Regions from separate parts of the Homo sapiens genome. Here region 2 is linked to region 1. The links come from fine-mapping of genetic effects on gene expression. A gene starts in region 1. The other region holds a variant in brackets. All regions are shown on one strand. Distances are from middle to middle.

Region 1 (8,335 bases):
CTTCTGCTTTTGCTCCCACCTCTTAATCGCCGTGTCCTTGAACACTGAAGGACCCAGGCTTAGTGCTCAGCCTCCTCACTCCCTCGTGATCCCATTCAGTCATGTGGCTTCAAATACCAACTAGACGCTGATGACTTTGTTTCCTCTCTTTACAGTCTCTTATTAACCCTCTCCTTCAACTACACGCCAACTCAACTGTGTATATATATAGCTATAGTTGTATGTATATACATATAGTTATATATATATACATGGTCATATATGTGTACCTAGACATATATACACATATATATACTTGAACTCCTGACCTCTGTTTACACTGTTTATACACATATATCTACATGTGTGTATATATATGTATGTGTATGGCCGGGCACGGTGGCTCACGCCTGTAATCCCAGCACTTTGGGAGGCCGAGGCGGGGAGATCACTTGAGGTCAGGAGTTTGAGACCAGCCTGGCTAACATGGTGAAACCCCATCTTTACTGAAAACACAAAAATTAGCTGGGTGTGCTGGCACCTGCCTGTAAACCCAGCTACTCGGGAGGCTGAGGCAGGAGAATCGTTTGAATACGAGGTGGAGGTTGCAGTGAGCCGAGATCGCGCCACTGCACTCCAGCCTGGACAACAGAGTGAGACTCCACCTCAAAAAGAAATATATATATATATATATATACACAATTTATTTATTTATTTATATAAAATAAATATATAAATATATTTACATAAATATGTATTTATATAAATATATAAAAATATATATGAATATATAAATATATAAGTATATATAAAAATATATATAAGTATATATAAATATATAAGTATATATAAATATATATAAATATATATAAGTATATATAAATATATAAGCATATATAAATATATATATAAAATATATATGTATATATAAATATATGTATAAATATATAAGTATATATAAATATATATAAATATAAGTATATATAAATTTATATAAATGTGTATATAAATATATATACATAAATATATATAAATATATACATAAATATATAAATATATATACATAAATATGTATAAATATACATAATTATAAATATATACACAAATATATAAATATATATAAACATATATAAATATATAAAATATATATAAATATATATAAACATATATAAATATATAAAATATATATAAATATATATAAACATATATAAATATATATAAACATAAATATATAAATATATAAACATATAAATATATATAAACATATATATAAATATATATAAATATATAAACATATATATAAATATATATAAACATATATATAAATATATATAAACATATATATAAATATATATAAACATATATAAACATATATAAATATATAAACATATATAAACATATAAATATATATAAACATATATAAATATATATAAACATATATATGAACATATATAAACATATATAAACATATAAACATAAACATATATAAACATATATAAACATATATAAATATATATAAATATATAAAAATAAATATATATATGCGGATGTGTGTATAAACTGTGTATATATATAACTATATATATAACCATATATATGTACTTATATATATCATCTACACATATATCATCTCAAGCTTAAGAATTCGTAATCAATACCCCTGATCACCCTCCACAAACCTGAGCTTCCTAGTGTTCATCCTCTCCATAAACATCCATCTGATGAGGTTCACATAGTAGCTCAAGCTTAAAACCTTGGTCCATCCATAAATCCTCTCTTTCTCACATACTCGTCCAACCCACCACAAACTCCTGTTGGTTTACCACTGAAATACACCCAGAATGTGACTCCCTTAAGATCCCATAGGTACCCAGTCCAAGCCACCACCTCTCACGATGGCTTTTAAACTCCTAAATCAGATGGTGTGTCACCTCCACTCAAAAAACTTCCCAAGCTGTCCCCTTCCACTTGGAGGGAAAGTCAAGGTCCTTGCCACTTGGTAAGGTCCACACGACTGCCCTGGCCCCTCCTCGCATCTCTGGGAACTCACCTCCTCTTTCTCTCTCTGTTCCCAAATTGGCTGCAGCCACACTGGGCTCCCTGCTGTTTCCCCTGCACCTGCTGTTTCCTCGACCTGGAATGTTCTGGTGCCTCACTCCTCCTCCTGCTTCCTTTCCATTCTCAAAACCCCTGTTCTCATCTTCTCCATGGCACTTACCATCACCTGCTCTGTGCACCTTGTTCATCTGTCTCTCCCCTCCAGAATGGAAGTTCACTAGATCACAGACTTGTCTCCACTTGTTGACAGCTGTAGCCCAATGCCCCGAACAGTGCAGGAGGAACCCAATGAACGTTTTTTAAAAATGAATGAATGAATGACGGAAGGAAGGAAACGGAAAGCATGCTTATGATGGAAAGTGAGGCCAAGCGCGTTGGCTCACTCCTGTAATCCCAGCACTTTGGGAGGCCGAGGCAGGAGGATCCATCGCTTGAGCCCAAGAATTCGAGACCAGCCTGGGTAACATGGTGAGACCCCATTTCTACAAAAAACATTTTTAAAAATTATCCGGGTGTGGTGGCGCGCGCATGTGGTCCCAGCTACTTGGGAGGATGAGGCGGGAGGACGGCTTGAGCCCAGGAGGTGGAGGCTGCAGTGAGCTATGATCACGCCATTGCACTCCAGCCTGGGTGGCACAGCGAGACACTGCCTCAAAAATTGAAAAAGAGAAAGTGGGAGCTGAAAGCCTCGGAGGGCAATCAGGGCGTCTTCAGAGAAAGACAATGAAACCAGAGCCACTGCAAGCCCTGACGGCCTGAAACCTAGGAGCCAGCTGAGTCCCTTCCACTCGCCCGCGCTGAGTTAACCCAGAGGCGGGTGCGGGTGTCGGAGCCCGCGCCGGGACGCACCGGCCGCACCGGCCGCACCAGCCTCCCCAGCACCGCGGACCCCAGGGCCGCCGCCCGGTCGCGCCGCGCCGGGCCTCCGCGCACCCACGTGGAGGGGGCGGAGCCCCGCGGGAGCCCGCCCCGGGGCTCTGGGTCTCCTGGCGCCCTGACCCGCCGGCCACCCCGCCGCCGCCCCACGCGCCTACCTGCGCCCACCTGCGCCCACGTCGCCCACCTAAGCGTGAACAGCTGCGTCGCGGACGCCGCCTTCCGGCAGGGACCCGCGCCCCAGGTAAGCGTTAGTCCCGCCTTCAGGAGTGCGGAGCCTCCCATTGGACGAGGTCTGCGTCCGTCTCTCCGCCGGCTAATGGCAAGCGGCGGCAGCACGGGGGGCGGTTCCAGGACCGGGCGCGGGCTACTGACGCCATCTCTAGAGGCCTAGAGTTGCTTGGAGAGGAGCTGGTTGCCAAGGCAACCCGCCCTGCCCAGAACAAGTGCAGATGACTAGGTTTGGGCCCCGCAGGGCTTGGGGGTCTGGGGTGCAAGCTGCCCCGGCCGGGCTGGCGTCCCGGGGTGGGGCCTCCGCCGAGGGTCCAGGGTATGGAGCTCGGCTCGGAGTCGAAATGGATGAGCTACGGCTATTGGGATCAACAGGGCTAGGACTTAAACTTCGTGCTGAATTTAAAAAATCAGGATAGGTGCTAAAAAATACACAGGGTGGGTAGTGTTATAATAATGCTTGTGTCCGGGAGCGGTGACTCACGCCTGTGATCCCAGCATTTTGGGAGGCCCAGGCGGGCGGATCGCTTGAGCTCAGGAGTTCGAGACCCGCCTGGCCAACATGACGAAACCCCGTAACCCCGTCTCTGCTAAAAATACAAAAATTAGCCAGGCGTGGTGGCAGGTGCCTGTAATCCCAGCTACTCGGGAGGCTGAGGCAGGAAAATCGTTTAAGCCCGGGAGGTGGAGGTTGCAGTGAGCCGAGATCGTGCCACTGCACTCCAGCCTGGGCGACAGAATGAGACTCTGTTTTAAAAAATAAAAAATAAATTAAAAAAATAAAAATTAGCCGGGTATGGTGGCACGTGCCTGTAGTTCCTGATACTCTGGACGCTGAGGTGGGAGGATCGCTGGAGCCTGGGAGATGGAGGCTGCAGTGAGCTATGATCAAGGCACTGCACTCCAGCCTGGGCAACAGAGCCAGACCCCGTCTAAAAAAAAAAAAGAAAAAAAAGCATGCTTTCAAGTCACCCAGTAAGTTAAGTGCTTGGCAGCCGTATCAAGTATGATGTACGTTGCCTCAGGAATCCAAAGGTGACAAGCAAAGAAGGTGCACTCTTCCTTACTGGTAGAAGATTGTATTTGGTTCCTTTTTCTGCATAACAAATTAACCCAACATTTAGCAGCCTAAAAGAACATTTATTTTTTCATGGTATCCGCGGTCAGGAAAGTGGGCGTGGCTAAGCTCTGTGCCTTTGCCTCAAGGGTTCACCAAGTTGTGGTCAAGGTGTCCCCCCAGGGTTGTGGTTTCATCGGAAAGCTTATCTGGAATGATCCACTCCCAAGCTCACACACACGGATATTGTAAGGACTCAGTCCTCCAAGGTCATTAGAGAAGGGCCTCAGCCTTGCTGGCTGCTGCCCAAAGGCCACCCTCAGTTCCTTGGTACATGGGCCTTACCACAAGGAAGCTCACAACACTGCAGCTGGCTTGCCTTAGACGGTGCAAGCACACACAAGAGGAGGCACACACAAGACGCACATCACAGTCTCCTTGCACCCTAATCTCAGAAGTGACTTCCCTAGGCTTTTGCCATATTCTGTTCATTAGAAGTCGGCCGGGTGCGGTGGCTCACACCTGTAATCCCAGCACTTTGGGAGGCTGAGGTGGATGGATCACTTGAAGTCAGGAGTTCAACACCAGCCTGGCCAACGTGGCAAAACTCCATCTCTACTAAAAATACAAAAATTAGCCAGGCATGGTGGCATGTACCTATAATCCCAGCTACTCAGGAGGCTGAGGCATCAGAACCTATTGAACCCGGGAGGCAGAGGTTGCAATGAGCTGAGACCGCGCCACTGCACTCCAGCCTGGGCGACAGAGCAAGACTCCAGCTCAAAAAAAAAAAAAAAAAAAAAGTGAATCATGGCCAGGTGCAGTGACTCAGGCCTGTAATCCCAGCTCTTTGGGAGGCTGAGTCAGGAGGATGGATGGACACCAGGAGTTCAAGACCAGCCTGGGCAAACAGTAAGACCTCATGTCTACAAAAATAAAAATAGAAAATTAGCTGGGTGTGGTGGTGCACGCATATAGTCCCAGCTACTTAGGAGGCTGAGGTGGAAGGATTGCTTGAGCCTGGAAGATGGAGGCTGCAGTGAACTATGATCACACCACTGCACTCCAGCCTGGGTGAAAAAAAAAAAGGAAAAAAGGAAAATAATTTTTTTTCATTTTTATTTTTGGAAATTGATATGGTTTGGCTGTGTCCCCACCCAAATCTCATCTTGAATTGTATCTCCCATAATTCCCATGCATTGTGGGAGGGACCTGGTGGGACATAATTGAATCATGGGGGCAGTTTCCCCCATACTGTTCTCTTGGTAGTGAGTAAGTCTCATGAGATCTGATGGTTTGATAAGGGGAAACCCCTTTTGCTTGGTTCTCATTTTCTCTCATCTGTTGCCATGTAAGATGTGCCTTTTGCCTTCCGCCAAGACTGAGAGGCCTCCCCAGCCATGTGGAACTGTGAGTCCATTCAACTTCTTTTTATTTATAAATTACCAGTCTCAGGTATGTCTGAATAGCAGTGTGAATACTGACTAATACAGAAATGCTGAAAGGACTTGGATGCAATGACATCCCAGTGGCACTGAGCACTCCTGGCACCCAGAACACTGCTCCTAAATACCATCCCCCATGAATACGGACCAGGGCTCCTGGGAGAAATGGCTGATCCCAGGGCTGTGGCAGGGAGAGCTCAAGATGGGCCTTGAATAGGTAAATCTGAACATCCTTTACAAGATAGCCTTGTAAGGCTCTCTGGGGTCATCTTCACACATTCTCAGGCGATACCCTTGTCAGGCTATCTAGGGTCATCCTCACATACTCTCACGTCATGTCTGGCACCCGTCTTTCTTGGTTGTTGAGTCTTCCAAGAACAAGGACTGTCTTTCCATTGATTTGCATCTACTATTGTACCTTTCATGAAACACACATTTTTCTCTTTTCTTCCCAAAATAATACTTCATGAATCATGTTTTAAAGTTTTATCCAATATAGGTCTTACGTATGTCCTAAGTTTATTCCTATGTGTTTTATCTTTATTACCATTGTAAATGGAGTTTTCCTCTTCCATTACATCTTCTGATTATTGTTTGTGTGAATGAAGGTTTTTGATCCTGTGTGTTGGTTTTATATCCTATTATCTTAACTAGGTTCTTTTATTGTTTGAGGAGGTATGCAAGTTTTATAATATTAAGGAGTTATATCACTCATTTCCTACTTTATTGAACACTAAATCATTGACACCTGAGATATGAAACTTTTTTTTTTGAGACAGTCTTGCTGTGTTGCCCAGGCTGGAGTGCAGTGGTACGATCTCGAGTCACTGCAGCCTCCACATCATGGGCTCAAGCAATTCTCCTGCCTCGGCCTCCTGAGAAGCTGGAACTACAGGCGCCCACCACCATGCCTGGCTAATTTTTGTATTTTTAGTAGAGACAGGATTTCACCATGTCAGTCAGGCTGGTCTCAAACTCCTGACTTCAGTGATCTCTCCACCTCCGCCTTCCAAAGTGCTGGGATTACAGCTGTGAGCCATCGTGCCTGGCCGTTACTAGCTGTTTTAATAAGACCATGAACCACAGCTGATCAACCCAACTGTTGCAAAATACTCTTAACCATCTCCCAAGGATCTCTGGCCCTCAAATTGGATTAAGTTGGCTTTTCTCGTTTACAGCAAAGCTTAAAGTGATACCATTTTCTCCACGGTATCTTTCTTCCTACAAACTTCATCTCACACCTTGGATGCTTGTTGTCTGTTTATGCTAGATTCAGTATCTGATGCATCTGGTGTTGCAGAACACTGCATGTGCAGCACTCAGTTCAGCTGTATTCTTGGTAGGCCGTGGAAGGCCAAGACTGGTTGGGTTTCTGACACCTGAACAAGTTTAGGAATCACTGCTTCAGACAGAACTTCCAAGATTTACCGCCAAGAGACCCAGCTGTGTAGCACGATGGAAGATAGGCTTGGCTCCCGCAGAACAGGGAATCAGAGGCTGCGAGTGATGGACAAAGCGTGGGTGCCACAGAAGTCCTGGGGAAATGGGCGAACACCCAGCCAAACGACTGGCCCAAATCACCCCTGCAAACGATCACACTGCTCAGCACTGTGTGCGCTGACCCCGGCTTGTTGAACAGCCGATTTTATCTAGAATCTCATCAACTTTTTACCCAATTGCCATAGAAACAGTAACCTTTCTAATTGCCCTCATTCTCCAGGGACTGTTTAAGTGAAACCAGAAGAGGGAAACGCTGGTCCTCTGAGTGGACTGCTGTTTCATTTTTTTCTTAAGATTCACCACAGCACAACTATCTGCAAAAATAGCTTCAGTGTGGAACGAAACATCCAGAATGAAAAATTACAGAGCTGCTCTAAAAAGCTTTTTTTTTTTTTTGGAGACAGAGTCTCGCCCTGTCGCTCAGACTGGACTGCAATGGCACGATCTCAGCTCACTGCAACCTCCACCTCCCAGGTTCAAGCGATTCTCCTGCCTCAGCCTCCCGAGTAGCTGGGATTACAGGCACGTGCCAACACGCCTGGCTAAATTTTTTTGTATCTTTAGTCGAGACGGGGGTTTCAACATGTTGGCCAGGCTGGTCTCGAACTCCTGACCTCGCGATCCGCCCACCTCGGCCTCCCAAAGTGCTGGGATTACAGGAGTGAGCCACTGCGCCCGGCCAAAAAAGGCCATTTTAAAAGGCATTTCTTGCAGCATCGATTGCAAGAAAATCTTAGCTTTTAATGTGTTCTAAGATGATGTCATAATGTAGCTCAGGAGTGGGTGCAGCCTCAACACTGCATGTCAGCAGAGCCTCCCCATCCCGATGTCGGAACAATGTGAGGTAGAAATCAAAGAACAACATCCTCAAACAAAAGAAATGAAAAACAGGGCCGGGCACTCACACCTGTAATCCCAGCACTTTGGGAGGCTGAGGTGGGAGGATCACTTGAACCCAGGAGTTAGAGACCAGCCTGGGCAACATAGCAAGATCCCACCTCTACAAAAAAAATTAAAAATTACCAGGGCATCGTGGCATGCACCTGTGGTCCCAGCTACTTGGGAGGCTGAGGTGAGAGGATCCCTTGAGCCCAGGAAGTCAGGGCTGCAGTGAGCTGTGATGACGCCACTGCCCTCCAGCCTGGGCAACAGAGCAAGACTGTCTCTAAATAAGACAAACAAATTGAAA
Region 2 (8,335 bases), 110 kb before region 1:
CGGCGTTAACTCACAGTAGTAAACTGCTTTTTCTGAGAAACAAGAGTTTTTTAAATTAAGCCTTTTATTTTAACGCAATCGCAGGTGACGGCCGTCGTGAGGGAACACGGGACGCCCACGTGCCCTCCACCACCTCCTCCCACGGCAACCCTCGCAGAGTAGCCAGGACCACATTCGGATCCGGACTCTGAAATGACAGTCCCACAACCAACAGCATCGATGTGGTCTTCTTAATGATCAGAAACACACAGGGGATTAATTTACTCTTATTCTGCAAAATAAACAAGCTCTCAAATTCTTTAAAGGTGAATCCCCCCCAACCGTCCTCCCTCCCCAGTTACTTCCTCCCTAGGACACCAGTGGAACATCCCATGCTCTCCCCCTTCCATGTTGATACCGAATAAAACACACTGCATCAGAAGACCCACGCATACGAGTCCAGGGGCTGCTACAAAGCGCGGCGACGTCTCCGCGGCGAGCTGGCCACTCCATGGTCCCGGCGCAGACACTGGGGCAGGCGCCGGCTCTGTCGTCGAGGCGCTCACAGGCAGGCACACGTGAGCTCCTGGAGGACAGGGAGAGCGGCCGCCCCGCCCCTGCGGAGCACAGGACGCTTCCTGCCACCCCTGCAGAGCATGGGACGCTTCCTGCCATGGTGCCGTGGCAATGGGTGGCACCTGCCTGTGGCCCCTTCTCAGAAGGACGTTTTAAACGCGTGAGGTCTGATGCACAGCCACAGGGAGACACAGACGAGCAGATGTGGGCATCCGAGTATTTACAAGGTCTGGTGGCTCCTGCAGCCGCGACACGGGCTGAGCGCAAGTGATGTGTGAGGTGTCCCCAACAGATGGCACGGGGAGCGCCCACACCCGCCACCGCGGGGTCTGCGGAAGCTCGTGTCAGCTGGAGGTTAGGGAAGACGCACAGGGGCTCATTCTCCACCCAGGTTCAAACTCCCTGAACTCACGAGACCCAGGCTGAAGACATGGACAGACTCCCAGCCCCAGCGCCCCTCTGACAGCACACCCGAGGCCTCCTGGGAACCTGGGACCCCTTGCAGGGTCCCCCGCAGGCTCCTTCCTAGGAAGGAGGTTCCTGCCCTACTCCACATTTCTCTCCATCCAACTTCCAACTCCTTCCCACTGGGCCCTGGAGAACATGACGAAGACTGTGGGGGCCTCCTCCCAGGAAACACACACACACACACACACACACACACACACACACACACACACACACACACACCAGCAACGCGCCCAGACCCCAATCCCTGGCAGCCCAACTCCTCGTTCTACAGAGAAGGGGTGAGGATCTCCAGGGGTGACTGCTCACATCTCGGCACATGTAGAAGGCAGGGCTGGAGCAGCGGCCCCTGCAGCCCAGGCCAGGGGACTGGAGGCCCTTCCACAGCAGCCCTTTCCTTTTGATACACGGTCTTGCTCTGTGGCCCAGGCTGGACTGCAGCGGCACCATCACAGTTTACTGCAGCCTCGACCTCCTGGGCTCAAGCAATCCTCCCACCTCAGCCTCCCAAGCAACCAGGACTATAGGCATGTGCCACCATGCCTGGCCAGTTTTTAAATTTTTTATAGAGATAGGACCAAGGCTGCTCTCACACTCCTGAGCTAAAGTGATCCTCCTTGCCGGCCTCCCAAAGTGCTGGGATTATAGGCATGAGTTTTCAAACTCCTGGGCCACAGCGATCCTTCCGGCCAGCCTCAAAGTGCTGGGATTATAGGTGTGAGCCCACGGTGCACAGCCCCCACTTTCTTCCTAAAAACCCTGCAGCTTGGCTGACAGTGGGACCTGCCTCCCTACTCCCGCCTGCAGGAGCTCAGAAGCCTCAGCTCAAGAGGAGCCCTTGCCAGAGACGTGGGACCAGGAATGGGCCCCACAGAGCCCTGCCCGTGGGCTTCCTAAACAGCCTGAGTTCAGCTGCACACACCAACGATGTAGGCGGGTTGCAATAAACAGCAAGAAACGGACCCATGGGACAGGAGAGACGCAGGAGCCCCAGGGGACAAGAGAGACGCAGAAGCCCCAGGTGCCTTTGGTGGCCAGTGCTGAATTTCGCAAGCAACATTAGAAACTTTTTATTTCTGCTTTTCTCTTAACCCAAGGGTGAAAATGGAAACCTGTGGTGTGGGGCAGTCTGCTGAACGCTAGGATGAGGGCGGGGAACAAGAGCCACCCTCCCCGCTGCCACCTGGCCCACAAGAGCCTTCCCAGGGGCTCTCCAGTTTCAGCCCCTCCTTGCCGAGCCAGACAGCGCTGCTGGCCTGGACGGGAGGGACACCCAGGCTGACTGAGTGGGGGAGCACTTTTTATAAAGATCAGATCAGGTTTCTGAAAACAAAAAGCCCCCAGATCCTGCGAGCGGCTATTTAGACTTGATGCACACTCCACCATTTCACAGGTATCCATTCCCCAGCGTCACACATGCCCATCCCCAGCTGGAGCACACTCTTCAGTGTGGAGGACAGAAGGAGCAGGCAGAAGACGACCCCGGGGCGCTGGGGGAGCAGGTGCGGGCTCCCACATACCTGCTCTATTCTGGTTGGAGGTGTCACAAGGGAAGGCGTGGAGATGCTGCCAATGGGGACATGCGGCAAATGCGCCCCCTTCGCCCCACACCTGTCAGCAGCTAGCAACAACTCAGTCCTGACTGCTGGAGACCCAGCCCCAGGGGCAGGCAGGTTGGGATCCGCTGCTCAGGAGGCAGCTCTGGGCCAGGGTGGAGGCCGGAGAAGCCAGGCACCTCCCCGCAGAGCTCTGCAGAGGCCAGTCTGCTAACGGCTTCATCACTGGAGTGGCGGCTGCTAAGAGCAAAGCCTGTGCTTGGTACCTCAGGGACCTAAATAAGAACCACTCCCTGTTCCAAGGATCCCAAGTGGGGGGAGGACGAGAAGCAGCTGAGCCTATAGGGCACAGGAAACTCACTGGGGTGTGGGTGCTGGGGACTTGGGTTGGGTGCTGTACTGAGCAAGCCTGTTGTGGGGGGACACTGCTGGCGGTGGGTGACGAGGTGCACAAGTCAGGTCAGGGAGGGGGACTCTGCCCTGGCACCACTGGGGCACAGGACACTGGCTCAGGTGTCAGCTGAGGACCCCCCAGTGTAGGCGAGGGGCTCACAGCCGCTGAGGCCTGTGGACACAGCTCCGTGTATTCTGAGGTCGCAGAGCACAAGAGGTTGGGGGTGTGATACGGACCGACCTCGCCCATCCAGGAGGAATGGGGCTGGTAACAGAGCTTTGTAACCCCTCAGCACCGGTAGAGGTTGCGTGGCTCCCCAGTGGAGCTGAGGGCTGGCGTTTCTTGCTCTGTATTTCCCTGCGCTCTGGAAACTCCTGCATCACCAGCCTTGGGCCCTTCACTGCCTCCCCTGGGCCTCCAGAGGCAGGCTGGGGTCCTCTCCTTTCTCAGCCTCTGTGGCCAGTGTCTGGCACAGGACAGACACCCACCAGGACGCTGCCTGGGACGGAGGGCTCCCTTCTGCCTCCGGCCAGGTGGGCCCCGCAGCAGCTCAAGCTTCAGCTGCAGTGGAGGGAAGAGTGAACTGCTGGGCAGAAGCAGAAGCAGGCCTCCTGGAACTCGTGACCCCAGATCCCAGAGGCCCTGCCCCCTTGCCACCTCCCAGAATGTTGGCAGGGCCTCTGGGTGATTTTCATCCACATGC[A/G]GGGGTGTCACATAGGCCCCTCGGCTCCAGCTCCCCACTGAACGGCAGCTTTGTATCCACAGGTAGGGCTGGGCGGCTCCAATTTGAACTTAGGCATATGGACGCTGTCTAACGATTCACGACACTCCTCGTTTCTTTCGCTACTATTGGACCAGTTGAGGGTGGAGCCCAGCTGCACCTGGCATTGCTGAAGAGCCCTCGCAGAGCCAGCGCTCCAGCTGCTGGGCGCGCAACAGCTGTCCCGGGAGGCAAGGGTTCGCACGGCAGTGCTTCTGTGTCGACAGAGGCTGTGCTGCAGCTCCCTGCCAGGCCCGTGTCCTTCCTAGCTGTGAGAACACTAACCTGCCTGGGCTTCACCTGTGGAAGCCACCGCTAACTAGCAGTCGGAGGCGGCGTTGTTTCTAAGACAGGCAGGCAGCTCCGGCAGGAGCAGCCGCTAAGCACAAGGACGGCCAACCACACAAAGCCTGCTTCTCAACCACTCGCAGGAAATCGGCTCACAGTTGCTCCCCATTCTTCAATGCTGATCCTGCCACTTTACTGAAAATCACATTATTAACGTTTAAAAAACGTATGGGAACCATGCAAAGACATCCACGCCCCTCAGTTGCTGCCGCTCCAGCACCTGGCTCCGAAGTCTGTGCAGAAGGCGAGGCTCCCGTAGTGCTCGAGAGGGCCTTGCACGCTCCCCGTGGAGGGAACAAAGCTACGTGGATTTTCCAGCGCGCCGCCCACTTCACCAGGCAGCCTCTGGGCTTCATCCTGCTCGCGTGACAGGTGTGCTCTGTGCTGTCAGGAAACTGCAGGGCTTTGAGTATAAACTGAAAACAGCAAAACTATGTTCTCATCTCAGAGGCCCCTTCCTTCTCACCCCGAGGTCACCTGGGCCCGGAGACACAGCACCCGCCGTGCAGGAGCCTGGAAGATGTTTGAGCAACGAGAAAAAAACCAGAACATGTTACCGCCTCTAAAATGAGGAAATGGCAGGATCAAAATTAAATGTCCGTGAAGTGTATCATCATGTCAATTTTGTTAGTTGTTACACATAGTTTAAAACACTCACATCTGGGAACTAAGTACGGGTTAGGTTTTCTCACTTTGCCACAACTCCTCAGTGAACACAACGAATTCATAAAAATCACTGTCAATTCGGTGAGTTACTCATAAGCAAAGGACTCTGAAGCAACGGTCACCATTCCCGCCGTCTCTGCAGCCGTGAGGCCCAGCAGCAGGCTAGGCAGCCCGGTTCGCGTGTCCGTGCGGACGCCTGGTCCACGGCCCCCGGCTGTGCGCGCAGCAGCTGAGGACGCTCCGAGGACACAGCGCAGGACCAGCACGGGGCCGCCACCTGCCCGGGCCACCGCCTCCTCAGAAGATAAAAGACCTACTCCAAGCACCTCTGCGCTCTCCAACCCAAACCCGGCTGAGCCCCGACGCAGCAGCGGCAGAGCCTCTTGAAGGAGCTGCCGGCCTGCTCCGCCGTCCTCAGGAAGGCTCCCGAGTGAAGCTATCCCAATTGTTTTCATCATGAGTCTTTGCTTTAGTTGACACAGCTTCGCACTAGCACCCACCGCGCCAGTGGGGGCCGCCTTGCCTCAGGCAAGAAAGCCCCTGGCTTCCGAGCGCCCGACGGGGTCCTCTACCCCGGCACAGGGAGGGGCGAGGCGGCGCTGCGGGCGACACAGGCCCTCTCAAGGGTCACGCGGCGGCCGACGACTCCAGCCCACCCAGGGTCCTCAGAGCTCGTGTCTCCCCCGGGGGCTGCTGCATCGCGGCTGGGGGCCCGGTCCGCCCCCACAGCGCAGGGGAGCCTGGCCGGTTGCGGGGCCGCTCGAGGGCTCGCAGTGCCTGCAGGGCCTGGACCCCCACCCTGCCACCCGCGGCCCGGCCCTGCGCCCCCAGGAGAGTAAGTGGGAGGAGGGCGCGGGACCGTCCAGGGCCTGCTCGGGGACCGGCGCGCAGCGGAGCCCCGAGAAGCGCGGCTCGGCCGGCCCGGGGTCTGCAGGGCGGAGCGGGGCCCGCAGCAGCGTCTGGACGCCACGGCCTCCCACGGGAGCGCCCACCTGTCGCCGCGGGGCGGGGCTGGGGCAGGGCCCCTCCCATCCCCTCCCTGCAGCCCGAATGCGGGCCCTGGCCCCGCGCACTGACCTCTGACCCGGCTGTCAGGTCCCGCGGGCACGGACGGCGCCGGGGCAGGGATGCGCCCGCAGTGCGCACCGCCCGGCCCGCGCCTCCAGCAGCCTCAGCGCCTCCACACTGCGCATGCCCGGCCGGCCCGGCGCGGCTGGAACCAGATCCAGCCGGCTGGACCGTGACGCCAGCGCGCCTGCGGGGACTGGACCTCGGCGCGGGGGTGGGAGAGCCGGGGCGGGGCCTCGGCGCTGAGAAGGCGGGGGTGGACCCTGCTGCAGCCCCCACTGCTCCTCCGACGAGGCTCTCTGGCCGCCCGGGTCTCCGGTCCACCTGCGCGAACTGCGGGGAGGGCGCACCCCCGCCCGCGCAGGGCCCCTGCCAGCTGCACGTACTTGCCTCTGACCGCCCCCACCCAGCCCCTATCGTCCCCCTACTTCCCTCATCTCCCCCATCTGCCTCCATTATCCTCTCATCTCCCCCAATCTGCCCCCATAGACCCATCTCCCCCAGTCTGTCCCCATCTCCCCTAGTCTGCCGCCATCTGTCCCTATCGCTCCCCCAATCTGACTCCATGGCCCCCATCTCCTCCAGTCTACCCCCATCTTCCCAGTCTGCCATCTCCCCAATCTGCCCCATCTCTCCCCAGTCTGACTCCATGTCCCCCCATCTCCCCCAGTCTGCCCCCATCTCCCCTGCCCAGGCCCTGCAGGCAGAGGCCTAGCCCTCCCATGGCATCCACGTGTCCAGCAAAGGGGAGGTGCTCAATACCGGCTGGCTGAATACGTGGATGAGTCACGCAGCCTTTTCCTCACCACACAGAGGGCGTCTAGATCTCTTCTGGCTTGTGAGTTCCCTGCCCTGGGACTAAGACTGCAGATCAGTTTTTTTGCTTGTTTGTTTTTGGAGATAGGGTCTTGCTCTGTCGCCCAGGCCAGAGTGCAGTGGCACCATTGTAGCTCACTGCAGCCTTAACTTCCTGGGCTCAAGTGATTTTCCCACCTTGGCCTTCCGAGTAGCTGGGACCACAGGAGTGCACCACTGTGTCCAGCTAATTTTTAAATTTTTTGTAGAGACAGGGTCTCACTACGTTGCCCAGGCTGTTCACGAACTCCTGGGCCCAAGTGATCTTCCTGCCTCGGCCTCCCAAAGTACGGGGATTACAGGTGCGCCACCATGCCCAGCCTAATTTTTAATTTTTGGAGAGATGGGGTCTCACTATGTTGCCTGGCATAGGAGGCTGGAACTCCTGGACTCATGTGATTCTCCTGCCTTGGCCTCCTAAAGCACTGACTGGGATTACAAGCATGCACCACGGTGCCTGCCTTGCAGATCAATTTTATGGTGCGAGGGAGCCGCACTGGCCACCCAGAGCACAGTGAGCCCGGAGGCTGGGCCGGTTCCAGGGCGAGGAGAGGCTTAGACTCCCTCTCAAGGCGTCAGGGTCCAGGACACACTGAGCTCTGGTCGCGGGGCCCTGCTCTGGAGGCCACCCCTGCCTGGGGAGATGGTGTGGGCACCCCAGTCCCCCGCTGAATAAGGATCTGCAAGGCCGGAGTCAGGCCTGGGGCTGGCTGTTTTCCTCCTAGCTGTTTCACCATCTCCAGGCCTGTTCCCATGCAGAGGCCTGCTCTGTGGTGGCAGCGGGGCAGGCAAGGGTGGACTGGAGGCCTCCTGGAGCTGGTGGACACGAGGAGGCCAGGAAGGGATGTCCTGCCCACTGCCTGCAGCGGCTATGCAGCAGTGCTTCCGATTTAGTGTCTCTGCCACTGGTGTCCGCACCCCGCTTTCAGAGAAGGAAGTGTGTGCTCAGTCACCGGTTTCATGGGAGGGACTCAATTCTGGGCCTTCTGAGCCCCAGTGGCCTTGTGTGCTGACTCCCCAGTGTGTCCCCAGCATGAATGCGCCAGCCCACACAGTCACCTGCCTCCATGAACGCGCCAACTCCGCGCATCCACCTGTCTTCCCGAACGCAACGACCCACGCATCCACCCACCTCCATAAACGCGCCAATCCTGCTCATATGCCGTCTTCACCAACGCACCAACTCGCACAGCCACCCGCCTCCACACCTGAGCCCGGGGACCAGGTTTCTTCTCCCCGTAGTTCTGTGCTGGTGGCTCTGGGCTGCTTTGGGAGACAAGGACAAGAGCAGGAGCGGGAGAAGCTGGCCTGGCAGTGGGGTGCAGTCCCCCGGGCTGGGCCACTAGCCCCACAGGGATGGGGACGTGGTGCCGGCTGAGGACCCAGGGGCTTCACTCCACTCCATCTCACGCTTCCAGCTACCCTGCTCTTTGCACTTCACAGAGGGGGAACCAAGCCCAGCAAAGGTGGACACATACCAGCTGCTATGCCTTCCTAGGTCCTGCCCAGTGACCCACCTGTAGGGCTGTGCTGTCCCCAGACCCATGAAGGCACACATAGGCTTGTGGCTTTGGGCAGGTGGGACTCTCTCCCCAGGCAGGCGGGGACTCTCTCTCTCCCGGGGCAGGGGGGGACTCTCTCTCTCTCCCGGGGCACGCGGGGACT

What was found.
Region 2: its variant is fine-mapped to the expression of CHLSN in blood mononuclear cells (TOPMed, PIP above 0.99). The same link has a PIP of 0.9 or more in lymphoblastoid cells.

The regions. Positions count from the first base shown.
Region 1 is chr7:1,135,118-1,143,452 of GRCh38, forward strand. It overlaps CHLSN (cholesin), which reads right to left and starts at 3,130. Exons shown (of 5, transcript NM_001318252.2): 1 at 2,198-3,130. RefSeq lists silencers at 2,690-2,739, 2,750-3,199, 3,400-3,539 and an enhancer at 3,260-3,359.
Region 2 is chr7:1,022,434-1,030,768 of GRCh38, forward strand. All of the region lies in intron 2 of CHLSN (cholesin), which reads right to left. MIR339 (microRNA 339) reads right to left here and starts at 593; the gene lies at 500-593. RefSeq lists enhancers at 704-1,261, 5,112-5,846, 5,847-6,580 and silencers at 5,324-5,533, 5,564-6,343, 8,233-8,332. The variant A/G (reference allele first, on the strand shown) is at 3,677.